Linked DNA regions of Homo sapiens. The protein of the gene in region 2 purifies or fractionates together with the protein of the main gene of each other region. This does not show direct contact. Each region holds a gene or a part of one and is shown on either strand. Other genes may lie near its edges.

The links.
Region 1: the proteins of AMBRA1 (region 2) and DCAF7 purify together in Homo sapiens (affinity purification with mass spectrometry; 3 studies listed by BioGRID and IntAct, with this or other methods). This does not show direct contact.
Region 3: the proteins of AMBRA1 (region 2) and TUBB4A purify together in Homo sapiens (affinity purification with mass spectrometry, with the first as the bait; 2 studies listed by BioGRID). This does not show direct contact.
Region 4: the proteins of AMBRA1 (region 2) and NDUFS2 purify together in Homo sapiens (affinity purification with mass spectrometry, with the first as the bait; 2 studies listed by BioGRID). This does not show direct contact.

What each region holds. Positions count from the first base shown.
Region 1 is NC_000017.11:63,553,460-63,560,479, forward strand, and holds part of DCAF7 (DDB1- and CUL4-associated factor 7), read left to right. Parts: intron 1-7,020. UniProt on the Homo sapiens protein: Involved in craniofacial development. Acts upstream of the EDN1 pathway and is required for formation of the upper jaw equivalent, the palatoquadrate. The activity required for EDN1 pathway function differs between the first and second arches.
Region 2 is NC_000011.10:46,591,024-46,598,738, reverse strand, and holds the start of AMBRA1 (activating molecule in BECN1-regulated autophagy protein 1), read left to right. Parts: upstream 1-4,715; 5' UTR 4,716-4,911; intron 4,912-7,374; exon of another isoform or gene 7,375-7,614; intron 7,615-7,715. UniProt on the Homo sapiens protein: Substrate-recognition component of a DCX (DDB1-CUL4-X-box) E3 ubiquitin-protein ligase complex involved in cell cycle control and autophagy.
Region 3 is NC_000019.10:6,499,307-6,507,073, reverse strand, and holds the start of TUBB4A (tubulin beta-4A chain), read left to right. Parts: upstream 1-4,861; coding exon 4,862-4,918; intron 4,919-5,450; coding exon 5,451-5,559; intron 5,560-5,676; coding exon 5,677-5,787; intron 5,788-7,767. UniProt on the Homo sapiens protein: Tubulin is the major constituent of microtubules, a cylinder consisting of laterally associated linear protofilaments composed of alpha- and beta-tubulin heterodimers.
Region 4 is NC_000001.11:161,205,363-161,212,382, reverse strand, and holds part of NDUFS2 (NADH dehydrogenase [ubiquinone] iron-sulfur protein 2, mitochondrial isoform 1 precursor), read right to left. Parts: intron 5,977-7,020; coding exon 5,786-5,976; intron 3,191-5,785; coding exon 3,070-3,190; intron 2,901-3,069; coding exon 2,788-2,900; intron 2,527-2,787; coding exon 2,452-2,526; intron 2,273-2,451; coding exon 2,195-2,272; intron 2,080-2,194; coding exon 1,994-2,079; intron 1,793-1,993; coding exon 1,673-1,792; intron 33-1,672; coding exon 1-32. UniProt on the Homo sapiens protein: Core subunit of the mitochondrial membrane respiratory chain NADH dehydrogenase (Complex I) which catalyzes electron transfer from NADH through the respiratory chain, using ubiquinone as an electron acceptor. Essential for the catalytic activity of complex I.

The DNA.
Region 1 (7,020 bases), on a different chromosome or scaffold from region 2:
GTTGGTGAGCAGCAAATCCTGCCTTAAAGTGATTCTCAGGCTAAGTTTGTGAGAAACCCTGCCAAAGAGGTGGTCGACTTCATAATTTGGAGGAACTTTAGAATTATTGGTTGGAATTTTTAGACCATTGGTTCCTGCTTGCCATGGATAGTGGTCACCAGCAGAGGATAAAGTAAAATGGACACAGCAAATTAACACTGATGAAAAAGGCTAGAAGTGGTCATCTTTTTAGTGTGGAGACATTCACTAAGAAAACATGGTTGTAATTTTTAAAAATTTGCATTAGCATAATCATGTTTTCCTAACGTAAAATTGTACCTAGTTGATCCATAGAATTAAGTCTATCAACAGTTTAAGAAATTGACTTCCAGGTGTTCCTTCATGTGAATAAATTTGGGAATTGTTGCAGAGTAAAGAAACAGATTCTATCAACTACACTTGGAATAAAAAGCCCCATTATAGGGCTGGGCGTGGTGGCTCACACCTGTAATCTTAGCACTTTGGGAGGCTGAGATGGGAGAATCGCTTGAGCCCGGGAGTTTGATACCAACCTGGGCAACATGGAGAAACCCTGACTCTACAAAAACATTAAAAAATTAGCCAGGTATGGTGGCATCTGCCTGTAGTACCAGCTACTTGGGAAGCTGAGGTAGGAGGATGCTTTAAGCTCAGGAGGCAGAGGTTATAGTGAGCCAAGATCACGCCACTGCACTCCAGCCTGGGCGACAGAGCCAGACCCTGTCTCAAAAAACAGCCTCATTATTGGTTATTATGTTTCTACCTTCTTTTGTTGTGGTCTCTTGAGGGATACAGCAAGATTGGTGTTGGAGCAACAGGTTCTCTAAATTTTAGTGTGTGAGAATCCTGAGGGAGCTGCACATTCCTGGGCTCCACCCCTGAAGTTAACAGACTTGGAGATAGGTGACAGACACACTAGTGGTTGAGTGGTCCAGATGGCACTCTCAGAACATGGCCCTGGAGCTGCCTTGGCATCTGTTGGCCAGAGGCGAGAATGTGATCTTTTTGTGTCTGCATGCTCCTAAACATTGGTTCTGCCCTTCCATCCAAGTTCACCCATGAAAAAAGCTCTGTGATTAGCCTGGGTTATCTAAGTCCTGCCACTTCCCAGTTTTGTATTGCCTTGGGCAAGTTATCCTCTGTGTCTCAGTTTCATCATCTGTAAAATTAGGGCAATAAATAATAACATCTACCTTGTTCAAAGATTAAATGAGTTAATATATGTAATGGACTTAGGAACGCCACCCGGTGTGGAATAAGCCATATAGAGATGTTAGCTGTTATTTAATTATTATCATTACTGTACCTGTAATTGAAATATAACCAAAGAGAATTATATGGCTGTTTAGTAAATTTACTTTTGTATTTTCCAGAAAGGATTCAGGAATAAGAGGTCAGAAAGGTAGCTGAAAAGGTCATTATTTCATTCTCTGCCTTTTAAAGACTCTGGGGGGAAAATTCCCTTATCTCTTTCAACCCAACTCATTTTGTAGTCTAGCAGATTCTTATAGTCAGACTCCAAGTAGTGTAATTTTCTAGTTTAAATCCATTTTCTCTTGTTCTACCTGGCTTACCTACGTAAGTCAGATATAAGAATTTGGCATTTCTCCTGTGTTTTGACAATATGTTTGGTCTTTAGGCCCAGGTGTTATTTCCCCTCTTTTATTGGGAAAAGCTGGGTAGCAGTTCCTGGGCTTCTGTTCCACTTAAGTGCATGTTTCAGGGTTGGTTTTGATAAAGATGGCAGTGTGATTGGGATTTAGTTTGCCCCAGTATTTAACTGACTACTTGTGCTCTAAGATTTGGCATCCAGAGAGTATTTTTGAGGTTCTGAGGAGAGACTGTAGGTATATCTGATGCTTTTTGGAGAATCCTAGTAGTGAGTCTGGGTGGCATGACCACCTTGTACTTGAAACACTGGGATGGGTACTCACCTCACCAGCCTGTGTTGATTCCTCTGAGGTTTTTAATACAATTACTTTATATGTTTGATGCATAATTATTTCGACTCCGGTATTTAATTTTTCATCTTGGTATTTGCGGTAGCCCTTCAGGATTATCATTCATTTGCTCATTAATTTAGCCGGTCTGTATTGAACACATACTCATGTGTTTTAGGCACAATGTGTTTTGGTACACATCAGTACTTTTGATAGATATTTAGAATGTCGCAGTGTTCCACGAGTCCCTGTCAAGACTGTCAGCAGGGGAATTTAAGACATAAAACTCTTCTGGTTTTAACTTCCTCCTTTTTCTAGACAGTGAGAGGACTCATTCCCTGTTGTGACCACTGGATAAAAGTGATAATGCTTTAAAAAAAAATGCTACTTTATTGCTTTTTGTCCTAATCTTGTTCACATAGACTTATTGGAGATGCTGTCACTTGAACAAGGAGTGAATCTATGCTCTGTAGGTAGCCTGGCTTGCCTAAGGACTTGCTGCCAAAGCTCTCGCTGCCAGAGCTCTCTGGTCAGCCTCTGAGCCACGAGCCAAAGGTGTGCTGTGCCAGAATTCATCTTAAAGTTTAATAGGGCAGGACCTTGGGTACCTGCAGACACTGGTCCTTGGTAATCAGTCAGGAAGAGGCTTGAAGAGAAAGCAAATAGAAAAGACCAGGAAAAGCTAGTGTATATTCTCAGAATATTGTGTTAGCCGATTTTTGTTTTATTAACAATTGTGGGAAAATGTTCCAGTGACTGGAGTGTTATGTTGATTTGGATAACTTGGGAGCTTATTTTAAAAATTACATATACATACACACATTCACCTTCTTCTTCTGCACTAGGACTGTGTGTGTTAAAGTGGAATATGGCCAGGCGCAGTGGCTCATGCCTGTAATCCCTGCACTTTGGGAGGTGGATGCAGGCAGATCACCTGAGGTCGGGAGTTCAAGACCAGCCTGACCAACATGGAGAAACCCTGTCTCTACTAAAAATACAAAATTAGCCAGACATGGTGGCACATGCCTGTAATCCTAGCTACTTGGGAGGCTGAGGCAGGAGAATAGTTTGAACCTGGGAGGCAGAAGTTGCAGTGAACGGAGATTGTGCCACTGCACTCCAGCCTAGGCAACAGAGCAAGACTGTTTCAAAAAGAAAAAATAAATCAGGGCCGGGCGCAGTGGCTCATGCCTGTAATCCCAGCACTTTGGGAGGCTGAGGCTGGCGGATCACGAGGTCAGGAGTTTGAGACCAGCCTGACCAACATGGTGAAACCCCGGCTCTACTAAAAATATAAAAATTAGCCAGATGTGGTGGTGCGTGCCTGTAATCCAAGCTACTTGGGAGGCTGAGGCAGGAGAATCACTTGAACCTGGGAGGCGGAGGTGTGGTGAGCCAAGATTGTGCCACTGCACCAGCCTGGGTGACAGAGTGAAACTCCATCTCAAAAGAAAAAACAAATTAGCTGGGAGTGGTAGCATGCACCTGTAGTCCCAGCTACTCAGGAGGCTGAGATGGAAGGATCACTTGAGCCCAGGAGGTCAAGGCTGCAGTGAGCCAAGATCTTGCCACTGAACTCCCGCTGGGGTGACAGAGCGAGACCGCCATCTCAAAACCAAAAAAACAAAACAAATGGAATCAGCACAATAGCTGTAGAAAGATGCTATTAGAAAGGATGGGGGGAAATGGAAAATAAGTGGCAGATAAAGTACCCATACTAAAAAGATGTCTTTAGCTTGGTTGAAAAATAATTGTCAGTCCTACCACTGTGAGTTCAAAGAACTTAAGAAAATACAGAACTTCAAGCAGAGATATAGAGGATTGGGTAAAATAAGGCATGGCAAAGAGAAAATATAACATCAGCTGGCAGAGCACACAGGAAAGTAGTGGAAGAGAAAACTAAAATTATCACAGGATTAAAAGCCACATTGGAAACAGAATAAAGGCTGGGCACAGTGGTTCACTCCTGTAATCCCAGCTACTTGGGACACTGAGGCAGGAGACTTACTTGAACCTGGGAAGAGGAGGTTGCAGTGAGCCGAGATCATGTCACTGTACTCCAGCCTGGGTGATGAAGTGAGACTGTCAAAAAAAAAAAGAAAGAAAGAAACAGAATAAAGATGAACACACAGTGCTGAAAACAGTAAAGGTTAGGGAGGACAGATTGAAAAATGAAACTGAAGAAAACAATGAGAACATAATAGATGCAGAAAGTAAAAGAGATCTGACGTAAGTATAATTGGTGTCCCTCAAGAAGAGGACCAAAGAAATGAAACAAACTCAAATATATGGTTAAAGAAGAACTTAGAAGTAAAGATTTGAAGTGATAAGTTCAAATTGGCATGATTTGAACTTGCCAAAGATTTGAAGTGATAAGTTCAAATTGGCATGAAGTGATAAGAAAAATTGGCACTGAACAGTTGGCACTGAAACATTTCCTAGGAAAATTTCTTTTTTAAAAAATTTATCTTATTTTTCGTGTGTTTTGTTTTGTTTTGAGACAGTGTCTCACTCTGTTGCCCAGGCTGGGTGCAGAGGCATGATCCCAGCTCACTGCACTCTTGACCTCCTAGGCTTAATCGATTGTCCCACCTCTGCCTCCCGAGTAGCTGAGACTACAGGTGCACACCACCACGCCCGCTAATTTTTGTATTTCTTGTAGAGGCAGGGTTTTGCCATGTTGCCCAGGCTGGTCTCAAACTGTGGGCTCAAGTGATCCACTAACCTCAGTCTCCCAAAGTGCTGGGACTACAGGCCTGGCACAGAGCCTGGCATCCCTAGGAACATTTCTATGTTTTAAGGATGAAGAAAGAATTATTTGGACACCCAGACAAAATGATCAAGTCCTCTTTAAGAGGGGAAAAGAAATTAGGCTAGCTACATTTGATGACAGAAGGCCATGGAGCAATGTCTAGGAATGTACAAATACTGTAGATTGTGCTGCTATAAATACTTGGGGATATACTTAGGCATATGTAAGGTTTATGTGGAAATAATAATGCTGGGGAACACAAAACAATACTCGAAAAATGGGAAGGTATTCTCTTTTCTTGTATAGTAAAGCTTGGTATCCTAAAGATGTCAGTGTCCCTAAACTTAATGTAATCCCTGTTTAAAATACCACAGTTGTTTTTTCTGGAGACAGGGTCTCGCTCTGTCGCCCAGGCTAGAGTGCAGTAGTGTGAGTATAACTCACTGTAACCTCAAACTCCTGGGCTTAATCAGTAGGTGTCTCACTATGTTGCTCAGACTGGTCTTGAGCTCCTGACCTCAAACAGTCCTCCTGCCTGCCCAACCCAAAGTGCTGGGGTTACAGGCATAGGCCACCATACCTGGCCAAAAATACTCCAGATTTTTAATAATGGTTTTTTAGAACCAGGCAAACTGATTGTTTCTACAGATAAATTTTACAAACATGCACACATTGTCAAAAAACTTCTGAAAAGGTGGACTAATGATGGATATTAAAACATAATGCAAAGATATAATAAATAAGATCGTTTGATACTCTAAGAACTGATGTATAAACAGAGTCTAGAAATGAACTCAGAATACAAAAAGAAATGTAGTCTGTGCTAAAGGTGATAGGAAATGAAGAAAAAATATTTTTAAGGCCAGGCACAGTGGCTCACGCCTGTAATTCCAGCACTTTGGGAGGCGGGGGCAGGCAGATCACGAGGTCAGGAGTTCGAGACCAGCCTGGCCAACATAGTGAAAGCCCGTCTCTACTAAAAATACGAAAAATTAGCCAGGCATGGTGGTGGGCACCTGTAATCCTCGCTACTTGGGAGGCTGAGGCAGGAGAATCACTTGAACCCAGGAGGTGGAGGTTGCAGTGAGCCAAGATTGCATCATTGCACTCCAGCCCGGGTGACAGTGTGAGACCCATATATATATATATATGTATATATATATACATACATATATATACGTATATATATGTATGTATATATATATGTGTATATATATGTATATATATATGTATATATATGTATATATATACGTATATATATATGTGTGTGTATATATATATATATATATTTTTAATAATTGGTATTGAAACCAGAAAAAAAAATTGGATCTCTACCTTAAGCTTTGTACCAGCCGGGTGCAGTGGCTCACACCTGTAATCCCAGCACTTTGGGAGGCTGAGGCGGGTGGATCGCCTAAGGTCAGGAGTTTGAGACCAGTCTGGTCAGCATGGTGAAACCCTGTCTCTACTAAAAATGCAAAAAGTAGCCGGGCATGGTGGCAGGTGCCTGTAATCCCAGCTACTCGGGAAGCTGAGGCAGGAGAATCGCTTGAACCCAGGAGGCAGAGATTGCAGTGAGCCGAGATGGCACCATTGCACTCCAGCCTGGGCAACAGAGTGGGACTCCGTCTCAAAGAAAAAAAAACCTTGTACCAGAATTCCAGATAAATGGAAGAATGTAAACATATAACTGTAAAACACGGGAGAATCTTGGTGTGAGAAAGCCATGAAAGTAGAAGTAAACTATATAAAAATAAAATCTCTGTAACAAAACCAAAGTCAAAAGATAAGTGACAAACTGAAAAAATACATGTAATGTCCTAGACAAAGAACAAATCCCTTAATAACTGCATATAAAGATCTGCAAATCACCAGGAGACCAGTCACCCAGTAGAAAAAGAGAAATAGATAGGAAGAGTTTCCAGAAAGGATATGTAAATGATTCTTGAACGTATGAAGAACTGAACCTCATAAGAAAAAAAAAAAATGGAGTTTCAGCTAGATTAGGAAAAATAAAAAACCGTGGTAATCTACTGTGTGTGTGTGTATACACGTATGTGTAGCTTTCCCATGCAGTTGCTATCAAAATTTAAATTGGCATTATTTTCCACCTGGTAGTTCCGCTAGTGGTAATTCATCCTACAGCTATACTCATGTGGTTGAAATGACTAAAGTGCAAGGATATTCATTTTAGCATTATTTGTAAAAGAAAAATATGAAAATATTATTATTAGGGAAATTGTTGAATAAATTATGCTACCTCCATGCAGCTGTTAAAAGAATGAGCTAGCTTTTCATATACTGATATGG
Region 2 (7,715 bases):
AACTTTTTTTTTAACATGACTACAGGCTGGGCACAGTGGCTCACGCCTGTAATCCCAGCACTTTGGGAGGCCGAGGTAGGCAGATCACAAGGTCAAGAGATCGAGACCATCCTGGCCAACATGGTGAAACCCCGTCTCTACTAAAAGTACAAAAATTAGCTGGGCATGGTGGCGGGCGCCTGTCATCCCAGTTACTAGGGAGGCTGAGGCAGGAGAATCACTTAAACCTGGGAGGCAGAGATTGCAGTGAGCTGAGATCCTGTCATTGCAACTCCAGCAACAAGAGCAAAACTCCAAAAAAAAAAAAAGAGAAAAAAAAATGACTACAACTGAAGGCCTCTTGTGATTGTAAAGTAGAAGAAATTAGATCTCTGGATACTGAACAGGAGAAAGGAGATTAGACTTTGAAATCATAAATTAGCAAATTTCAAAAAGGGGCCTCCCTGTTTGCCCAGCAAAACATTAAGGATCTATTATTCTGTTGACATGTTAACTTTCTCTAATCTTTATGCTGTCTTTTACAGATGGGCTGATTTCTTTGTCATTCTAGAGCCTTAAAATATTCATACATTTTGATCTATTGATAAATTTCATCACTGGAGATTTATCTTATAGAAATAATTCCAAAGAAGGGAGAGCCTTCTATCATTCTACGGCTAGCAGTTCCCTGCTGTTCTGGGCTCTCTCTCCTTCCCTGGGCTGCTCCTACGTCACTATACTACTACCTTTACCATTCCATCATCAAGTGTATACATTACCCCACAGCACAAAAAGAACCGGCTAGAAAAGAACAGAACAGAATTGCAATGGCAGAATTGACAACTGGCTTACCATTTCAGCTGTTCAAGGCCTGACTGGTCTTCCTGCACTTCCTAGTAAGATGACTCACGGTACCATTACAGAATTATCTCACGCTAGGGTCAAACCTGATTTCTACCACCGAGTGTGTGGTAGAGGCATGTTTCTCAGAACCCAGAGCCAAGATAAGGAACAGTCTCCAATTCCCTGTTCTCTCCCCTCCCTCCTTCACCCTTCATTCCAGGCAAGTCTCCTAGGCAAGTGTGTCCCATCCTCATCCTCTTTTTTTTTTTTTTTTTTTTTTGAGGCAGGGTTTCACTGTCTCTGTTGCCCAGACTGGAGTACAGTGGTGTGATCATGACACACTGCAGACTCGACCTCCTGGGCTCAGGTGAGCCTCCTGCCCCAGCCTCCTGAACATCTGGGATTGCCAGTGTATGCCACCACTCCCTGCTAATTAAAAAAATTTTTTTGTTTTTTAGAGACAGGTTCTCACTATGTTGCCCAGGCTGGTCTCAAACTCCTGGACTTAACCTATCCTCCCGCCCTGGACTTCCAAAGTGCTGAGAGTACAGGTGTGAGCTGCCACACCTGACCTCTTGTTGGTTTAGTCTTTCCAAAGTTTTTTCCATGTGATTGACAGGGGCAAGGTCCATGCTTAAGAGTGAACTGTCCCAGATTTCCCATGGCTGTCACAGTTTTAACACTCAAAGTCCCATGTTCAGGGAAACTCCTCAGTCCTGGGCAAAACTAAGACTGGTTATCCTACTTCAGGGAAGCACCATCCTACCTCAGGGGAGTGGCTCCATGAGGAGAGTCCTACCAGAATTCAGTGATCAACAGTAAACACCATAATGAGTTCTTGAGTCTTAACATCAATATGAGGAACATCAGGGGTACAGCCCAGGATGATCTTCACTTCTGCTGGCCTTGTTTCTTTTTTACAGTTTTTCCTCTAGTGTGAGGAGATTCCCGCAAGGTTGATGGTTTCAACTCCTGATCTCTTGTGATCCACTCTTCAGTCTAAATAAACATTTCCATAAGAACATGCAGTAGTTTGCTGTCAAACTGAAGCTTAAATCCATATATATACATACATATTTGAAAAGAACAGTTCTCTAAAGGAAATTTATCTGTAAAGGTGCAACTCTGCCCATAGAATAAGCCACCCTTTCCATGGTCTCACAAAGCAGTCTAGACTCAGCGTTGCAAATATTTTCATTTTCAGATGATGATTTTAGATAAATCTTTGCCGAACTTTCAGGTGTTTTACTCAAAAGTCTCCAGCTTTTGAAAAAAGGAAAATGTCTAGAGCAGTGAAATTAGTTTTTTTTACTGCAATCAAGGTTTCAAAACAATGTAGTTGGCCGGGCGCAGTGGCTCAAGCCTGTAATCCCAGGACTTCGGGAAGCCGAGGTGGGTGGATCACGAGGTCAGGAGATCGAGACCATCCTGGCTAACACGGTGAAACCCCGTCTCTACTAAAAATACAAAAAAATTAGCCGGGCGTGGCCGGGCGCAGTGGCTCACCCCTGTAATCCCAGCACTTTGGGAGGCCGAGGCGGGCGGATCACAAGGTCAGAAGATCGAGACCACGGTGAAACCCCATCCCTACTAAAAATACAAAAAATTAACTGGGCGTGGTGGCGGACGCCTGTAGTCCCAGCTACTCGGGAGGCTGAGGCGGGAGAATGGCGTGAACCCGGGAGGCGGAGCTTGCAGTGAGTCGAGATCATGCCACTGCACTCCAGCCTGGGTGACAGAGCGAGAATCCTCAAAAAAAAAAAAAGCCGGGCGTGGTGGCGGGCGCATGTAGTCCCAGCTACTCGGGAGGCTGAGGCGGGAGAATGGCGTGAACACAGGAGCCAGAGGTTGCAGTGAGCCAAGATCGCTCCACTGCACTCCAGCCTGGGCGACAGAGCGAGAGTCCGTCTCAAAAAACAAAGAAACAAAAACAATGTAGTTATCTGAGTAAAATTTGAATGAGGGCTATAGCTATGCTCCACAAGCCTCTCCAAGAAGGAGAGTTTTCTTTCTTTCTTTTTTTTTTTTTTTGTAGTCCCGAGTAGCTGGGACTACAGGCTCCTGCCACCACGCTTGGCTAATTTTTTGTATTTTTAGTAGAGACGGGGTTCACCGCATTAGCCAGGATGGTCTCAATCTCCTGACCTCATGAACCGCCCGCCTCGGCCTCCCAAAGTGCTGGGATTACAGGCGTGAGCCACCGCGCCCGGCCTGGGCAGTATTTTCAAAGACTTAGAGGAGATTTTTGTAAAGTGCCAATACATTATTTAAAAAAGGCTAATACTGTAAGGATGTGCTCTTTGAGTTTAATTAAAGTCTTCAAAGGCTGGGACTTTTTTTTTTTTTTTTTTTTTTTTTTTTTTTTTTTTTTTTTTTTTTTTAGACGGAGTCTTGCTGTGTCGCCCAGGCTGGAGTGCAGTGGCACGATCTCTGCTCACTGCAACCTCCGCCTCCTGGGTTCAAGCGATTCTCCTGCCTCAGCCTCCCGAAAAGCTGGGATAACAGGCACCCGCCACCACGACCGGCTAATTTTTGTATTTTTAGTAGAGACGGGGTTTCACCATCTTGACCAGGCTGGTCTCAAACTCCTGACCTCGTGATCCACCTGCCTCGGCCTCCCAAAGTCCTGGGCTTACAGGCGTGAGCCACTGCGCCCGGCATTTAAAAAAAAAAAAATTTAAGATAGGGTCTTGCTCCATAGATCAGGCTGGAGTGCAATGGTGTGATCATGGCTCATCGCAGCCTCCACCTCCCGGGCTCAGGATATCCTTTCATCTTAGCTTCCCGAGTAGCTGGGCCTACAGGCGGGAGCCACCAGGCCCGGCTAACTTTTTGTATTTATTTATTTTTTTTTTATAGAGACTGGAGTCTCACCATGTTGCCCAGGCTGGTCTTGAACTCCAGGGCTCAAAGCAATCCACCAGCCTCGTCTCCTAAAGTGCTGGAATTATGGACGTGAGCCGCTGCGCCCGACAAACTGGGACTATCTTGTTTCCTTTTTACACCCTTCCTCTCTGAGTAGTGGGGAAGGGTGTAAACCTCCCTAGGAGCAGGTAAGGTAGACTATGATTGCTCACAATTGGTAACCATACTTGCAGTGATCTTTGTGATTTATTGAATCACATCTAGGATGTACATATTAATCCATATTTGTGCTGAGCATATTCATTTATCAACTAAGAGACTACAGAAAAAAGCCATTGTTGTGGTGATGAAAATGTCAACACTTTATCAGGTTCTGAACCCAAAGAGACTTTTGCTTATTATGTAAGAAGCACACCTGTGGCTCTAGGCCTTTGGAAGAAAATAAAAGAGAAAAGCAATCCGTGTGCTTTTTTTCCCCCTGCCTTAAGGTCAGGCTACATAATTCTGGGTTTTCCCAGCTTCTCTTGGTCATGCTTTGTGGGGACTAAACTGGAGCTTTTACGTAGACTGTTCATTTTGTTCCTCAGCTTGAATTCTCTCTCGTTTTCTGTCTCTATGATTTTTAATTCCCCTCACTGCTCTGTTAGGAAACTAAGGGTCAAATGAGGTTAACTAATTTGCTCAATTGGGATAAAGAGTGTTGGGAGTCCATAGAACAGTTGGGGGACTATAGTTACACAACAAGTGTTATTGCGCTATGATTTGATCTTCAACACATTCACGAGAAACTCCAGTTCTCTAAAGAACTTTAACAGCCGGCGACCCACAGAAAATGGCAGAAGTGCAGGCTCTTTTTTAACCCGTGGCTTATGATCTGGGTTTGTTTATTTACGCCTCAGACAGGAGCCGGACCTTGAGTAGGAGTTGAGCTGTTTTTCGGCGCTCGGCTGTGGTTCCTTGAACGATTGCTTGGGCGTTCCTCCTTTGATGTCTGGGGCGTTCTTGTATTCGGTGATCTTTTGCGCCGTCTTCTTGCTTGATGTCTCCTGAGCGGCGGCGGCGCCGGGTCGAGGGCTGAGTTGTCCGCGAGGCCCCGCGCTCAAGCCGCCTTCTCCTGCCGGTCGGTAGAACGGACCCCTTCCTTTATTCCTGTCTCCTCTTTCTTTTTCCCTGTGGCTCAGCCCGTTCGCTGGACTGCAAACCGAGCTCCCGTCTGCCTTGCAGGTAGGCCCAGGAGGAGCCTGGGAGGCCCAGCCCGGCATCCTTCCGCCGCGGGGTTGAGAAGACCTTGGCGCCGGCGGGTGGGCAGGCTGGCCGGCCGCCGTGACACTGCCAGAGGAGGGGCTACCGGACTGCGTTGAGGGGCGCGGCCGGAGGGGCAGCCCGGAACCGAGGGAGAAGCCGAAAGGAGGGAGAGTTGCTGGGGCTTCCCGGTGTGGTTCTTTAGGGAGGAGATGTTGGGTCTAGGGCACCCCCAGTGTGTGGCGAAAATGGCTTTCCAGGAACCGATAGAGCTTTGCGCACTTTGACCCTCCTTCCTTTCTCCTTTTCCCCCCACCCCGAAGTCTCCGGGTGTCATGCCTCAATTGCACTGGGGACCCCTACTGAGTCCAGCCTTTGAAGGGACCTTTGAGTAGGTGGAGGCTTATGGAACAAGGCCCTCTGGCTCTTCTGAGCGAAGTGTTATGTTCTCGCCTTTTTCTGGGTGGGTAAACTGAGGCTGATGTCTGGGACGTGACTTCCCCACATATCCCCAACAGATCATTAAATTCACTGTAAGTCACTTTTTGTCGTTTACCAATTCCCTTCCCCCCACTTACCAGTCAAGTTATGAAAACAGTGAGTTATTGTTTGATCGTCTGTGATCCCAATTTTCCTAGGAATATAGACTGTTAGGAATATAGATCCTGTCACAAGAGGCTTCAGAAGTAAAGGAACCATGTGGTTTCTTGGCTGTTTTGCTTTTCAAAGTCTGTATCATTTTAACTAGTGTAGCAATGACAGTTTCTTTTTGTTTCTTGATAACCTTGTTGTCTACTTTGTTTCCTGATAACCTTGTTGTCTACTTTGTTTCCTGATAACCTTGTTGTCTACATTGTTTCCTGGTTGATTTATCCTCCTTCTCCCCAGCCTCTTTGGAAATCTTATAACTATGGTGTTTGTGGTTAGAGGTTAGAGTCTAGTAGAGGATGGTCAAGACTTTGAAGGCAAACGCTTGTCCTGTGAGGGTCTGCTTTCTGGGGAGTATCCAATGGAAACCCAAGGAGTCTGTCTCTCTTTTTTCTTTTTTTTTTTTAAGACAGGCTAGCTCTGTCGCCCAAACTGGAGTGCAGTGGCGCGATCTTGGCTCACTGCAACCTCTGCCTCCCGGGTTCAAGCGATTCCCCTGCCTCAGACTCCCGAGTAGCTGGAAGTACCGGCGCGCGCCACCACACTCGGCTAATTTTTGTATTTGTAGTAAAGACGGGGTTTCATCATGTTGGCCAGGCTGGTCTTGAACTCCTGGCCTCAAGTGATTCGTCCACGTCGGCCTCTCAAAGTGCTGGAATTACAGGCATCCACCGCGCCCGCCCAGTTTTGTTGTATTTGATTAGTAGTTTGGTCACTGCACATACAAAAGCTAAAAAAGGCTGTGTGTAGAAATCATTCAAATATTGAGATATTTAAATGAAAGGTTAACGCTTTGGGAACTCCTTTGTGGTTCCCTTTTCCTTCCCAGCTTGGAAAGTCTGGGGACTAAGTCTGTTATTTTCATCGGATTCAGTACCATGATCCTAATTTGTGTCACTTCATTCTTGGAAAAAAAAAAATTCAGCCTGTCGGGCGCAGTGGCTCACTCCTGTAATCCCAGCACTTTGGGAGGCCAAGGCAGGTGGATCACCTGAGGTCGGAAATTCGAGACCAGCCTGACTAACGTGGAGAAACCTAAAAATTCAAAATTAGCCGGGCGTGGTGGCGCATGCCTGTAATCCCAGCTACTTGGGAGGCTGAGGCAGGAGAATCACTTGAACTCGGGAGGCGGAGGTTGCGGTGAGCCGAGATCACGCCGTTGCACTCCAGCCTAGGCAACAAGAGCGAAACTCCGTCTCAAAAAAAAAAAAAAAAAAAAATCAGTCTTGAGGTCATTCTGGGTTGGATAAGTTTCCAAAGTATGTAGAATCAGTAAGAGAGCGTTTTTTTGTGTGTGTGTTTTTTGAGACGGAGTCTTGCTTTGTCCCCCAGGCTGGAGTGCAGTGGTGCGATCTCGGCTCACTGCAAACTTCTCCGCCTCCCAGGTTCAAGCAATTCTCTGCCTCAGCCTCCTGAGTAGCTGGGATTACAGGCGTCGCCACCACGCCCAGCTAATTTATTGTATTTTTAGTAGAGATGGTGTTTTACCATCTCGGCCAGGCTGGTCTTAAACCCCTGACCTCGTGATCCACCTGCCTTGGCCTCCCAAAGTGCTGGGATTACAGGTATGAGCCACCGCGCCCGGCTAAGAGAGTGGTTTTAAGGGTGCAGAGATTCAGTTCCTAGTCCTTGAGTGGAAACTGTACAAGGCCACATTCTCCCACTATTTTAGTATTCTCATGTGAGTTTTGGAAAGATTACTGTTCCTTTAATTTTTTGTGTGAGGTCAGCAAGATTTAAATGAAGGGCCCTTAATCATAAGCAATTTCCTAGTTACACGACCTCAGTGCTCCCAGAAGGGGATTAATGAAGAGCCACCAGACTATCTTTATGGAGAATCTAGATTGGGAAGTTAAGCTAAGAATGTGCATTTTTGAAAAAGTTTTTATGGTAGAAGAGAATGTATATCAGAGGAAAGAATGTAGAGAAGAAAGCAACATTGTCCACTGGGAATTGATAAGTTCTGCGTAGAATTTAGAGTTATAAGGACTATCTCATTGGCTCCTAATGAATGCTAAATAACAAATGGAAATTGCTGTGAGTGTCATGAAGCAATCTTAGGAATATTTTATTATGTTTCTGCAGGAAATAATTGGCAGAGGCTTAAGTTGAATTGAGGCCAAGAAATTTGGTGGTGT
Region 3 (7,767 bases), on a different chromosome or scaffold from region 2:
GGGGCCAGGCGTGGTGGCTCACGCCTGTAATCCCAACACTTTGGGAGGCCGAGGCGAGTGGATCACCTGAGGTCAGGAGCTTGCGATCAGCCTGGCCAACATGGTGAAACCCTGTCCCTACCAATAATACAAAAATTTGCTGAGGGTGGTGGTGCACACCTGTAATCTCAGCTACTCAGGAGGCTGAGGCAGGAGAATCACTTGAACCCCGGAGTTAGAGGTTGCAGTGAGTTGAGATCGTGCCACTGCACTCCAGCCTGGACGACAAGAGCAAAACTCCGTCTCCAAAAAAAAAAGAAGTATAGGTGGGGAGGGGTTTTGGAGGGTTTTTGTTTTTTTTTTTTTTTTGAGATGGTGTCTCACTCTGTCGCCCAGGCTGGAGTGCAGTGGCGCAATCTCGGCTCACTGCAAGCTCCGCCTCCTGGGTTCACGCCATTCTCCTGCCTCAGCCTCCTGAGTAGCTGGGACTACAGGCGCCCACCACCACACCCAGCTAATTTTTTTTTTTTTGTATTTTTAGTAGAGATGGGGTTTCACCGTGTTAGCCAGGATGGTCTCGATCTCCTGACCTCGTGATCTGCCCAACTCGGCCTCCCAAAGTGCTGGGATTACAGGCGTGAGCCACCGCGGCCGGCCGTTTTTTAAAGCCACTGTTAGGTGTGGGTCAGAGAAACCTTAGGATGCCTTCAAGATTGTGCTGGAGCTGTAAAGAGTGCTAAGCCAAATTACTTTCCTATTGGAGCTATACTATGCGAGTAAATAAAAAATCATTTGCTGGCCAGGCGCAGTGGCTCACACCTATAATCCCAGCACCTTGGAAGGCCAAGGCAGTGTCTCACGTGTCCGTGTGAAGAGGCCACCAAACAGGCTTTGTGTGAGCAACAAGGCTGTTTATTTCACCTGGGTGCAGGCGGGCTGAGTGGGAAAAAGGAGTCAGCAAAGGGTGGTGGGATTATCATTGGTTCTTATAGGTTTTGGGAGAGGCGGTGGAGTTAGGAGCAATGTGTTGGGGGCAGGGGTGGATCTCACAAAGTACATTCTTGAGAGTGGGGAGAATTACAAAGAACCTTCTTAAGGGTGGGGGAGATTACAAAGTACATTGATCAGTTAGGGTGGGGCCGCAACAAATCACAATGGTGGAATGTCATCAGTTAAGGCTATTTTCACTTTTTTTGTGGATCTTCAGTTGCTTCAGGCCATCTGGATGTATACGAGCAGGTCATAGGGGTTACAATGGCTTAGCTTGGGCTCAGAGGCCTGACAGGAAGGAGGACCACTTGAGCCCAGGAGTTTGAGACCAGCCTGGGCAACATAGCGAGACCCTGTCTCTACAAAAAATGCAAAAATTAGCCAGGCCTGGTGGTGCCCACCTGTAGTCCCAGCTACTCAGGAGGCTGACGTGGGAGGATCACCAGAGCCTGGGAGGTCAAGGCTGCAGTGAGATATGATCACACCACTGTACTCCAGCCTGTGCAACAGGGTGAAACTGTCTCAAAAAAAAAAAAAAAAATGGCGGCCGGGTGCAGTGGCTCACGCCTGTAATCTCAGCACTTTGGGAGGCCAAGGTGAGGGGAATCACCTGAGGTCGGGAGTTCAAGACCAGCCTGACCAACATGGAGAAACCCTGTCTCTACTAAAAATACAAAATTAGCCGGGCGTGGCAGTGCATGCCTGTAATCCCAGCTACTCGGGAGGCCGAGGCAGGAGAATCGCTTGAACCCAAGAGGCGGAGGTTGAGATGAGCAGAGATTGCACCACTGCACTCCAGCCTGGGCAAGAAGAGCGAAACTCCATCTCAAAAAAAAAAATAGCTTGCTAAAAAGATAAAAACATACATACACACATACTAACTGAGTTGAGGGAGAGAGAGTATATAAGTCACAGAAGCTAAGGGATCGCCCCACCAAACCCATATAAGGTCTAGCCCCTCTGGAATTTATTCTGGCATCTAGTGTGAGCGAAGGGGCTAACACAAATTTTTTCCCAAAATAATTAACACAGGATTTCTCAGCCTCAACCCTGTTGACATTGGGCCTGCATCATTCTCTGGGGTGGGGCCGTCCTGTGCACTGAAGGGCTTTCAGCAGCATCTCTGGCCTCCACCCACTAGATGCCAGTAGTGCACACATAGTCTCACACACACATCCCCGCCCCCATCTGGGTACGACAACCAAAAATGTCTTCAGATATTGCCAAGTGTTCCCTGGGAAGGCAATATCACCGCTCCCCCGCCCCCCCGACACACACACACACACACACACACACACACACACACTCTCACACACACGCTGTTGAGAGCCACTGGTCAAATTTAGTGGTCATTGGGCAGGGCACGATGGCTCACATGTGTAAACCCAGCACTTTGGGAGGCTGAGGTGGGAGGATTGCTTGAGCTCAGGCGTTGGAGACCAGCCTGGGCAACATAGCAAGACCCCCATCTCCACAAAAAAATACAAAAATTACCCAGGCATATTGGTGCATGCCTGTAGTCCCAGCTACTCGGGAGGCTGAGGTGGGAGAATCACTTGAGCCCAGGAGTTCGAGGCTGCAGTGAGCCATGGCCATGCCACTGCACCCCAGCCTGGATGACAGGGCAAGAAATTAAAAAAAAAGAATTTGCTGGGCGCGGTGGCTCGCGCCTGTAATCCCAGCACTTTGGGAGGCCAAGGTGGGCAGGTCACGAGGTCAGGAGTTCGAGACCAGCCTGGCTAACATGGTGAAAGCCCGTCTCTACTAAAAATACAAAAATTAGCTGGTCATGGTGGTACGTACCTGTAATCTCAGCTACTGGGGCGGCTGAGCCAGGAGAATGGCTTGAACCCAGGAGGCAGAGGTTGCAGTGAGCCGAGATGGCACCACTGCACTCCAGCCTGGGTGACAGAGCAAGACTCTGTCAAAAAAAAAAAAAAAAAAAAAAAATTAGTGGCCATGGCAAATGTGAGGTCCCAACCACATGGCCAAGATGGCTTACCCCACCTCCCACCAGCAATACACCAAAGTCCTTGAGTGGGAAAGTCAAGGATGGGAGGCGAGGAGGAGACTTCCTGGGAGGGCGGGACTGGAGGCTGTCCAAGGAAGCAGCCCCAGGAGGCTTGACCTTCACATGAGGGGCAGCACAGGAAGTCCAGTCCAGCCTCTGATAATACTTAGACTCGAGAAAGATACAATTTATTGTTGACTCTGCAGGAGGGGAGACTATCGCCACCTTGTTAACTGGGTCATCGCATAATCAGACCCTGGAGGGTGGGCCTTCCTCACCACCCCAACTTGCAAATGTGAAATTCAGACACAGAGAGGAGCACCAGGGCAAGGTCATACACCTAATGCTACAGGAAATGCAGAGGCAAGGGAGATGGTGGGTAATAAATTATAATACTGAGCTGGGCGCAGTGGCTCATGCCTGGAATCCCAGCACTTTGGGAGGCTGAGGCAGGAGGATCTCTTGAGCTCAGGAGTTGGAGAGCAGCCTGGACAACATAGCGAGACCCCATCTCTACAAAAAATCTTGAAAATTAGCCAGGCGTGATGGCATGCACCTGCAGTCCCAGCTACTTGGGAGGCTGAGGTGAGAGGATTGCTTGAGCCCAGGACATTGAGGCTGCAGTGAGCTATGAGCATGCCACTGCACTACAGCCTGAGGGACAGAGCAAGACCCTGTCCGAAAATATATATATATAGGCCGGGCGCGTTGGCTCACGCCTGTAATCCCAGCACTTTGGGAGGCAGAGGTGGGCAGATGGCCTGAGGTCAGGAGTCTGAGACCAGCCTGAACAACATGGAGAAACTTTGTCTCTACTAAAAATACAAAAAAATTAGCCGGGCGTGGTGGCACATGCCTGTAATCCCAGCTACTCGGGAGGCTGAGGCAGGAGAATCGCTTGGACCTGGGAGGCTGAGGTTGTAGTGAGCCGAGATTGGGCCATTGCACTCCAGCCTGGGCGCCAAGAGCGAAACTCTGTCTCAAAAAAAAAAAAAAAAGGGTATAGATATAGATAAAGATAAATTACAATACTGGAGAGGAGGGGTGTTATTTTGGGAAAGCGAGGCAGCCCTGGGGACTCACTGTCCCCCTCCCAATATGAACCCAGCTGTCTTACTCCTCCACTCTCCTCCTTAGGCCAGGCTGGGGGTGACCCCACCTGGGACGAGCTCAATGCCCAGTAGAGGTGTACCAGGGGAGCCCACCAGCATCTGCACCCAATCATGGGAGGAAAATCGTGGTTTTACTATGCAGCTTCAGGACAAGCCCTCCAGGAACCTACCGCCCCCCACCCGCAAACCAGATCGCCGCTCCGGAGCCCCCAGCCCACTGGGAGGGCTCGCGGTTACTGCAAGGATTCTGGCGAATGAGGTCTAAATAGAATGAGAAGGGGGGCTGCGGACCGAGAAACTGAGGCAAGGCCTGGGGCGGGAGGGTGGAGGCTAAGGGGGAGGGGCAGGACTTCTCAGATGCCTGTTTACCAGGCGCTCCCCTCCCTTCCTCCGCCCAATTTCTGCGGGTGGCCAAGCCTGGCTGGGGGCTGGGACGGGGGAGACTGCACTGGTGGCTCCCTAAGGGGCCTCACCCCCAAGGCAGGGGTCGGAGCACGTGGCGTCCCGGACTTCTCTGGGAGGCCCCCTGGGGAGGGAGGTCCCTGCACCACCTCCCCCCACCCCAGCCCCCTCCATCATCCCGGGGCGGGACCAAGGGGCGGAGCGGGAGGGTGACCGGCCGTGACGCGTGCCCCGCCCGCTCATATAGCGGCTCCCGGGGGCGCAGGGACCGTGCTCCGCCGTCTCCGCCGCATCTTCCACCCTCGCCGCCGCCGCAGCTCCCCGCGCTCGTGCCACCGCCGCCGCGTCCACCCTCAGCGCCACCGCCATGCGGGAGATCGTGCACCTGCAGGCCGGCCAGTGCGGCAACCAGATCGGGGCCAAGGTGCTCGGGGAACGGGGCCCGGGGAGGCAGTGGCGGCCCCGGGGAGCACCGCGGGGTCGGTCCCCGGAGCACCCCGCAACCTGGGAGTCTTTGGAAAGGAATGAGGTCCCCAGGAGGCCAGCGCGCCCCAGGGGCCTTGGGGGAAGGGTCGCGGGGTGGGGGTGGCAGGGCCAGACTGGGAACAAAGAGGCTGCGGAGAGTGGGAGCCAGCCTTCTGTCCGCCTGTCACAGCTGGGCCCACAGCTGGGCCACTGTCCCCTCCTCACGCACAAAGAGCCCCGGTGCCTCCCCCGGGCTGCAGCCTGGGTGCGCTGGCACCAGCCGGCCCCGCTGGGTGCTGACTCGGCTGCACCCCGCCCCCACCGCTCCTTCTTGCTGCCTCATCCTCGCCCCGACACCATGCCTCTAGGTCCCCCGTTCACCTTGCTGGGGGAGAGGTGGCAGCTAGGGAGCTAGTTGGGGGCTGGGGGCAGTCCTCGGCTTGGCCACCGGCTTCCCCTCTCTCAACTCTTCCGACCACCTCTCTCTCTAGTTTTGGGAGGTTATCAGTGACGAACATGGCATCGACCCCACAGGCACATACCATGGGGACAGTGACCTGCAACTGGAGAGGATCAACGTGTACTACAACGAGGCCACAGGTAGGGCGAAGGAGGCACCTTCCAGGTGGGAAGGGGCAGCTGGGAGGGAACAGGATGCTACCGGGCGCCTGTGGTTCCTGGCACGCATCGAACTGCCCTCCATCTGTTTCCCTGCAGGAGGAAATTATGTCCCCAGAGCGGTGCTGGTGGACCTGGAACCCGGCACCATGGACTCTGTCCGTTCTGGCCCCTTCGGTCAGATCTTTCGGCCGGACAACTTCGTGTTTGGTGAGTCCCCCAGCAGGGAGCCAGAGGCTGGAAAACCTCCTTATTCCTGCTAACACCACAGAGTCAACAGCCACCACCGGGGCCCACAGACCAGAGATGGGGTGGACAGGGCACCAGGCACCAGCCCTGCATCCAGGGCTGTGATGAGGGGATGCTCAGGCCACTGTGAGAGCCCTGAGGAGGGCGGATACAGAGAAGGATTCAGGGAAGTCTTCCTGGAGGAGGTGGCATTTTAATTCAACGGTCTGAACCGGAACCAGACTGCCTGGGTGCACATCCCAATTCTGCCACTTCATGCATTCAACAAACAGTGAGCACTCACTGCATACCAGGCCCTGTTCTAGAAGCTGGAGATCCAGGTAAGAATCAAACAGCCGGAGCTCCCTCTCTGCCCCAGTGCAGCTCCCATTCTGGTAGAAGGTGATAGGCCACAAAGGAGATAAATAAGTAAAGCTCTGCCAGGGGTTGATTCAGATGGATAACTTAGGATGGGCTCCTCAGCCTTTCTGGGCCTCAAAAATCCTCTTTTTTTTTTTTTTTTCAGACAGGGTCTGTCTGTCCTGCTGTCACCCAGGCTAGAGTGCAGTGGCATGATCACGGCTCACTGTCACCTCCACCTCTGGGCACACGTGATCCTCTTGCCTCAGTCTCCCAAGTAGCTGGACCTACAGGCATGCACCACCACACCCAGCTAATTTTTTAGTTTTCTTTGTAGAGAGGTGGGTCTCTCTATGTTGCCCATGCTGGTCTCAAACTCCGGGACTCAAACGATCCACCCAACTCAGCTCCCAAAGTGCTGGATTACAAGCATGAGCCACCTTGCCCGGCCTCCTCGTCTTTAAAACAGGGATTTCACTGGGCATGGTGGTTCATGCCTATAAACCCAGGACTTTGGGAGGCTGAGTCAGGAAGAGAGCTTGAGGTCAGGAGTTCGAGACCAGCCTGGGCACCATGGTGAGACCCTGTCTCTACAAAAAGAAAAAAATTTTAATTAGCTGAGTGAGGTGGTGTGCACCTGTAGTCACAGCTACTCGTGAGGCTAAGGTAGGAGAATCACTTGAGCCTGGGAGGTTGAGGCTGCCATGAGCTATGATGGTGCCACTGCACTCCAGCCTGAGCGATGGTGTGAGACCCCATCTCTAAAAAAGATCAAATAAAACAGGGATTCTAAAATGCTATTAGAATTGTGAGGCTCAGGGTGGGCACGGTGGCTCACACCTGTAATCCCAGCACTTTGGGAGGCCGAGGCGGGTGGATCACCTGAGGTCGGGAGTTTGAGACCAGCCTGACTAACATGGAGAAACCCCATCTCTACTAAAAATAAAAAATTAGCCAGGCATGGTGGCACATGCCTGTAATCCCAGCTACTCGGGAGGCTGAGGCAAGAGAATTGCTTGAACGGCAGAGGTTGTGGTGAGCCAAGATCATGACACTGCACCCCAGCGTGGGCAACAAGAGTGAAACTTCGTCTCCAAAAAAAAAAAAAAATTGTGAAGCTTAAAGTCATGAATATGTGTAGAGTTTAGAACAATGCCTGACACAGAGAAAGAGGTAAATAAGCATTTGTCGTTGTTTTCATTACTATCTGCAGTCTAGAATGTGAGTAGGATTTGGACTGGCCAAAGGGCATGGAAGGGAGGAAAGATGTTTAAGACGGAGGCAACAGCATATGTGAAGATAGTGGGGTGTCCACACCCTGGGACAATCCTTCCGGGAAAGCTTTCCTGGCTCCAGCTGGCTGCATGTCCCCACCCTGGCTCCACCCGCCTCCAATACTCCCAGCATGTAAGACGTGCTAAATGCAGGACCTGTCCTGCCTCTCTGAATCTTTTCCGCAACTCGCCTCTTACTTCCATTTTACAGGTGAGAAAACAGAGGCACAGAGACGTTAGGTCACTTGCAGAAAGTCACACTGCAAGCCACTGGGGCTGTCAGGAGCCAGAGGAGAGGGTCTGACTACTAGGTCCACGCTTTTTTTTT
Region 4 (7,020 bases), on a different chromosome or scaffold from region 2:
ACTGGCGCATCTCCTCCACCCGGCACAGGTACCTCAAGAAGATGAGACAGAGCAAGAGAAGAACAGTCAGAGGAGCAGGTATGGGGCTAGGAAGGATGCCCTTTGGCCAACCTCAAAAGGGTTAGGTCAACTCTCCCCACTCTTTTCTCCAAGTACAGCATCTCTGCTTGGCTTGGCCACCCATATAAACCCTGTAGTCTTTTTTTTTTTTTCTGAAACAGGGTTTCACAGCTCACTGCAGCCTCGAACTCTGGGGCTCAAGTGATCCTCCCATCTCGGTCTCCAAAGTAGCTTGGATTACAGGCGTGCACCACCACATCCGAATATTTTTTGTAGAGACGAGGTTTCACTTTGCTGCCCAGGCTGATCTCCAACTCCTGAGCTCAAGCGACTGCCTGCTTTGGTCTCCCAAAGTGCTAGGATTATAGGCATGAGCCACCAACCCCAGCCCCCTGTAATCGTTTGCTTCTACTCTTGGGTGCTTCCCCAAACCCTCTCCTTATTTTCTCAGAACATGGCCTGTAGTATTTATTTCTTTAATTACCTCCTTAAGCACTTTTTGGACCACAGGATGGGTGAGAGTCAAATGGACAAACAAAAATAACAGCAGTAGCTACCAGGTTCAAAAAATAAAACAAACAAAAATAAAAAAAACAATACACAGTAACAAATCTGACTCAGGGTGAGAAAACAGGAGGAGAATTTGTTTTTGGTTTTCGTTTTTTGTTTTTTTGAGACAGAGTCTCGCTCTGTCGCCCAGGCTGGAATGCAGTGGCTCCATCTCAGCTCACTGCATCCTTCACCTCCTAGATTCAAGCAACTCTCCTTCCTCAGCCTCCCAAGTAGCTGGACTTACAGGCATGTACCACCACACCCAGCTAATTTTTTGTATTTTTAGTAGAGATGGGGTTTCACCATGTTGGCCAGGCTGGTCTTGAATTCCTGACCTCAAGTGATCCACCCACCTTGGACTCCCAAAATGCTGGGATTACACACATGAGCCACTGTGCCTGGCCCAGGAGGAGAATCTGAAGCTTAGGATCTACTAGAAAGAACACTGGATCAGGAGGATTCTAGTCTCGACCACTCCTGAAGAATAATCCCAGCTAATCCCTAACTTTTATGCCTCAGCTTTCTCAGCTATAAAATGCAGCCAAAGCTAGCTCCATCTAAGACAAGGATAATGTAAAGATAAAAAGAATGCCATAGGCCGGGTGTGGTGGCTCACGCCTATAATCCCAACAATTTTGGAGGCCGAGGCGGGTAGATCACCTGAGGTCAGGAGCTTGAGACCAGCCTGACCAACATGGAGAAATCCCGTCTCTACTAAAAATACATAAATTAGCTGAGCGTGGTGGCTCATGCCTGTAATCCCAGCTACTCAGGAGGCTGAGGCAGGAGAATCACTTGAACCCAGGAGGCGGAGGTTGCAGTGAGCCGAGATTGCACCATTGCATTCCAACCTGGGCAACAAGAGCAAAACTCCGTCTCAAAAAAGAAAAAAATAAGTAAGATTCCATATATGTGAAAGTGTTTTGAGAGCAACCTCGTCTAACACACACAAGAGCTCCCACAGACACTGAGAAGTAGGGTAAAGAAGGAAGTGGCAAAGAGAAGAGTGAGGCAGGGGAAACTAGCTGGAATATCAGCCAAGAAAGGATTGGGGCCTTACCTATCATAGCAGTCCCCTCGAGAACCAACAGGAACATCAAACTCAACCTGGTCGTAAACATCATAGGGCTGGGTCTTCCGCAGGTCCCACTGGATGCCTGAGCCCCGAAGCATCACTCCACTGTGGAGAGCATAATGGGAATAAGGGCCACTCTCCACAAACTAAGTAAGGAGGCTCCTTCTTCCTTAGCCTCCCTTGTTGATCCTTCACATTCAGGGTATGACTAGGAGGATGCCAACAAGTCTTCAAAGACAAGATATTAGGCTGGAACTCCCCCACTCCCACCCCCACTCCTACGGAGAGAAGTTGTATTCCCCTCACCTAAAACCATAGTTAAGTGCTTCTTCTGCTGTTACAACCCCAATGTCAATTGTCCGATTTCGCCAGATCCTATTGTTGGTCAGCAACTATTGATCAAGAAAACTGGTGTGTTAATACTCTTCCTCACACTCTTCAAATATCTCTGTATTTCTCTAGCCCTTCTTGTGGGGGAGAGATTTTTCCCATTGACTCCTAGCTTACCTCCTCCAACTCATCAAGCCGAAGAGAGAAGTTCTTAGAAAACTGATAAATGTCATCCATAAGCCCAAGGGGTAGGTCCTAGAAGCCAAACGGAAGTGCTACTGAATGTGGCATAGCCTTCACTAAGGAGAGCCCTCTCAGCACCCCCTCCCCCAGCGATACAGGTTTGGAGTTTCCATCATCCAGCACTGCCCTCCAGTGGCCACAGGGAAAATAGGCCTGGGCTGGACATTTGGGGAAGCCGGGGACCTGCTCACCTGGTGCACTCCTCCTGGCCGGATATAAGCAGCATGCATTCGGGCTCCAGACACTCGCTCGTAGAACTCAAACATCTTCATAGAACGTGCTGGGAATTAGTGTCAAAGTCCCAGGCCCCCAGGTCCTATGATGGCCTACTCCCCCACTTTCTGCCTTCTTGTGCCCAACCAACCCCTCATGATATAGTTTCTACAAATATAACCCAAGTTAAACATACCTTCCCCCTCTAAATGTTCTCCCATGTTCTCTCTCTTCTTTTAATCTCCTGTCTCCTTTATACCTTCTCTACTTCCTGCACTTCCTTCCCTATTCCTATCCTTTCCTCCCACTCTTACCTTCTCCCTTTCTTCAAACAGCCAGAAGAAAGGGGTCATGGCCCCAAGGTCCAGGGCATGTGTGGTCACAGCCATGATGTGGTTCAACAAACGTGTGATTTCTCCAAACAGCACTGTGAAGACAAGGAGAAGACAGGATATAGGAGCCAAGCACTGAGGCGGACAGAGAGGTCTGGGCAGAGCCTGGGGTCTGAACACTAAGCTTGGGTTCAACGGGGAAGTGGTGGAAAAGGCACTATGCTATGCTCACAGTGGGCCACAGAAAAAGTTGGGGGGACATACCTCGGATCCACTGTGCCCGAGGAGGAGGCCGGATGTTTAGCAACTTCTCCACAGCTAGAGAATAGGCCTGTTCGTTACACATCATGGACACATAGTCTAGCCGGTCAAAGTATGGAAGGGCCTGGGAAGAGGGAGGAATGTGGGTCACATCTAACAGGCTCAGGAGCCCACAGTCTGGCTGCCTGAAGCCTTGCTCTCAGTCGGCACCAGAAGTTGGTGCTGTATAAGCCTTTCTAGTCTCAGGAGCCCCAACAAGGCAGGTAAAAATATCCCAAAAACCAGTAGTATTCTAGTAAATGTTTAAAAACTGGCTCTCCAAAGTGAGGGAGGACTCTGATTTGTCATGTTTGCCAATTTCCATGGTAAAAATACTCCCACAATGGCCAATTTTAAGTTACCAATATCATGTAACTGAATGCAGCATTGGGAAGAATACCACACCATTATACAGTATTTCCACCATACAGACACATTCAAAGCAAATACCTCAAAGGCAGAGCATAGTAAAATGTGGTAAAATAATGAAGTGATGAGCTTTGAATATTTAATCTTACCTTTGCTTTTAATATAATGTATTAAATCATAAGCTTATATAAATTAATTTCTGACAATGGCTATGTTCAACAACTGGCTCACAAAACTCCTGAAAATTTAACAACTGCACTCTTGCAAGCCCGTATGAGCTAGCTCCAGGATACCACTGTCAAGAGTCCTTGGCCGGGCACGTGGCTCACGCCTGTAATCCCAACACTTTGGGAGGCCGAGGCGGGTAGATCACCTGAGGTCAGGAGTTTGAGACCAGCCTGACCAACATGGAGAAACCCCTTCTCTACTAAAAATACAAAATTAGCAGGGCGTGGTGGTGCATGCCTGTAATCCCAGCTACTTGGGAGGCTGAGGCAGGAAAATCACTTGAACCCAGGAAGCAGAGGTTGCAGTGAGACAAGACTATGCCACTGCATTCTAGCCTAGGCAACAAGAGCAAAACTCCATCTCAAAAAATAATAAAAATTTAAAAAACTGACATACTGGTCAGGCGCGGTGGCTCACACCTGTAATCCCAGCACTTTGGGAGGCCAAGTCAGGGTGGCTCATGAGGTCAGGAGTTTGAGACCAGCCTGGCCAACATGGTGAAACCCCATCTCTACTAAAAATATAGAAATTAGCTGGGCGTGGTGGTGAGTACCTGTAATCCCAGCTATTTGGGAGGCTGAGGAACGAGACTCGCTTGAACCTGGGAGGTGGAGTTTGCAGTGAGCCAAGATCACACTATTGCACTCCAGCCTGGGCAACAAGAGTGAAACTCCGTCTCAAAAAAAAAAAAAAAAAAAAAAAAATTAGCCAGGCATGGTGGTGCGTGCCTATAATCCTGGCTACTCTGGGGGCTGAAACAGAATTGCTTAAACTCGGGAGGCAGAGGTTGCAGTGAGCCAAGATCACGCCACTGCACTCCAGCCTGGGCGACAGAGCGAGACTCCGTAGGGAAAAAAACAAAACAAACAAAAAACTTCAGATACTGAAGGAGAAAGGCAATCAGTCTTAAGAGTATCTGGGAGGGTTTTTTTTTTTAATCTTTTTTTTTTTTGAGACACAGTCTTGCTCTGTTGCCCAGGCGCTGGAGTGCAGTAGCACCATCTTGGCTCACTGCAACCTCTGCCTCCCAGGTTCAAGTGATTCTCCTACAGGCGCACACCACCACGTCTGGCTAATTTTTGTATTTTTAGTAGAGATGGGGTTTCACCTTGTTGGCCAGGCTGGTCTCAAACTCCTGACCTCAAGTAATCCACCTGCTTCGACCTCCCAAAGTGCTGGGATTACAGGCGTGAGCCCGGCCAGAGTGAGGTATTTAAGGAAGACAGAGCATCAGGTAGAAATGGTCCTTCCTCCAGAATGCCAAAAAGCCAAGTCCTAGCTGTCTGCTGAACCAGCTTCAGCTTCCAGGAAGAGGGTGGAGCTAAGACGCTACTAGCTGGGACAGCCTGTTCTTATTCTGATGTCACTGTGACGGGGGCTAATGCTACAGGGGTTAACCCATAGACTCCAGGACCAGAAACTGTCATCGCCGAGGCTCTCTTGGGGAATCACATTCTAGTCACTGTTCACCCCGACACTGGGCTGGATCTAAATCCTAATCCTACCATCCTGTTATCAGGACCTTTCTTCATGACAGTAAGAAAAAAACTTCAGATTCCTATTAGAGATCCAACTCCTTCAAATCTGACCTTCATCATTTGGGTTATACAGTTCTCCTAAAAATGGCAAACTGTCATAAACCCTCTCTGAGTTGCTGTGACTCATTGAATGTTTTGAAAACAAACGTAGACAGCTGGAAGATACAAGAATCAGCTGTTAAACTTAGCGAGCTAATGTCTTTTCTCTTTCCCTGCCCCTAGGGACACTGGCTTTGACGCACTAGTCTAACGTAAGAGCAGGGAAACTGAGGCACTCAAGTAATGGCAAAGGGGCCTGCCAAAAAGTCAGCCAGAGAAAAGCTGAGTATAGCTCCAGCTTCAAAGCACTGCTGCTAAATAAACCAAATCCTAATGACTCAAGCATCCCCTGCCACTTCCCTCCATCCACCCAACCAAGAGTAATCTCAACGGGTTACTCCTCTCAACACCTTCCTCCCCTCACGTTTTAAGGGCAGCAAACTGGCAAAGCCCCAGGCTAAAGCAACCCCAGATCCCGCCAAAAGGCTCCTGTTCACCCCCCACACCTGAAGATAGGTCTTGTATTCAATGAGCTTCTCAGTGCCTCGGTGCAGGAGCCCGATGTGAGGATCACACTTCCGCACCATCTCCCCACTCAATTCCATCACTAGTCGCAGGACACCATGCGCTGCTGGGTGTTGGGGCCCAAAGTTCAGGGTAATGTTCTTCACAATTGTGTCCTTTGGAGGGTCCACATCTGAGAAGTAAGAAATAGTTCAGAGCCACATGGTTATTCCCTTGGGATCCCCCAAAAGATAGCAAGGAGTTAGCCTCTCCCTATAGATTTTCTAACTCACCATTCCATACTTTGTTAATTTCCTAATCTCCACTATAACCAGGAAGAGGACTCTTAGATGGGGAAAAGGAAGATCTAAACTTTCTGATGACAGACATCATGAATCTCACTCTATGTCTCCTAGAATACCTTTTTTTTTTTCATGGTTCATAGTCAGTGTGCATAGAATATCTTTTTAATAATACATAACACTTATATAGCTTTATTATGTGCCAGGCACTACCTTAGGCACTTTAATTGATTTAATTCTTACAACAACTGTTATGAGTAATAGGTACTATCGTTATCCCCATTTCATTGGATAAACTGAGGCCATGGAGCTTAAATGACTTTTCCAGGATCATAAAACTAGTAAGTGGCAGAACCAGGATTTTAACCCAGCCTGTTTAGCTCCAGGATCCAAACATCTTAACTACTATGATATACTGTCCTCCAAATGTATCCAATGAATGGCCAACCAGTCAGGAAATGGTATACCTAATGCTTACTCGCACTAAATGAACTTTTACCCTCAAGAAGATTACCTTTTTTTTTTTTTTTTGAGACAGAGTCTCACTCTGCACCCAGGCTGGAGTGCAGCAGCACCATCTCGGCTCACTGCAATGTCTGCCTGCCAGGTTCAAGCAATTCTCCTGTGTCAGCCTCCAGAGTAGCTGGGACTACAGGCGCACACCACCATGCCCACCTAATCTGAAGCTTACATTTTAATTTGCGAAAGAAGTACATGTGAAAAACTAGGAACAGAGGCCAAATTTGTAAGTAACCAAGAAAGTGCCTTAGCCATTAAGTTTTTAAAAGAAGGAAAGAACACTGCAAAGACTTCATGTAGGTAGGATCTGAGCTCAAATATAGGAAATGATTTAGATAGCTAGAAGGGAGAAGAAGCATTCCAGGCTATGAAATCAACATGGGCCAAATCTTAGAAACAAGGAAGTAAACATCCAT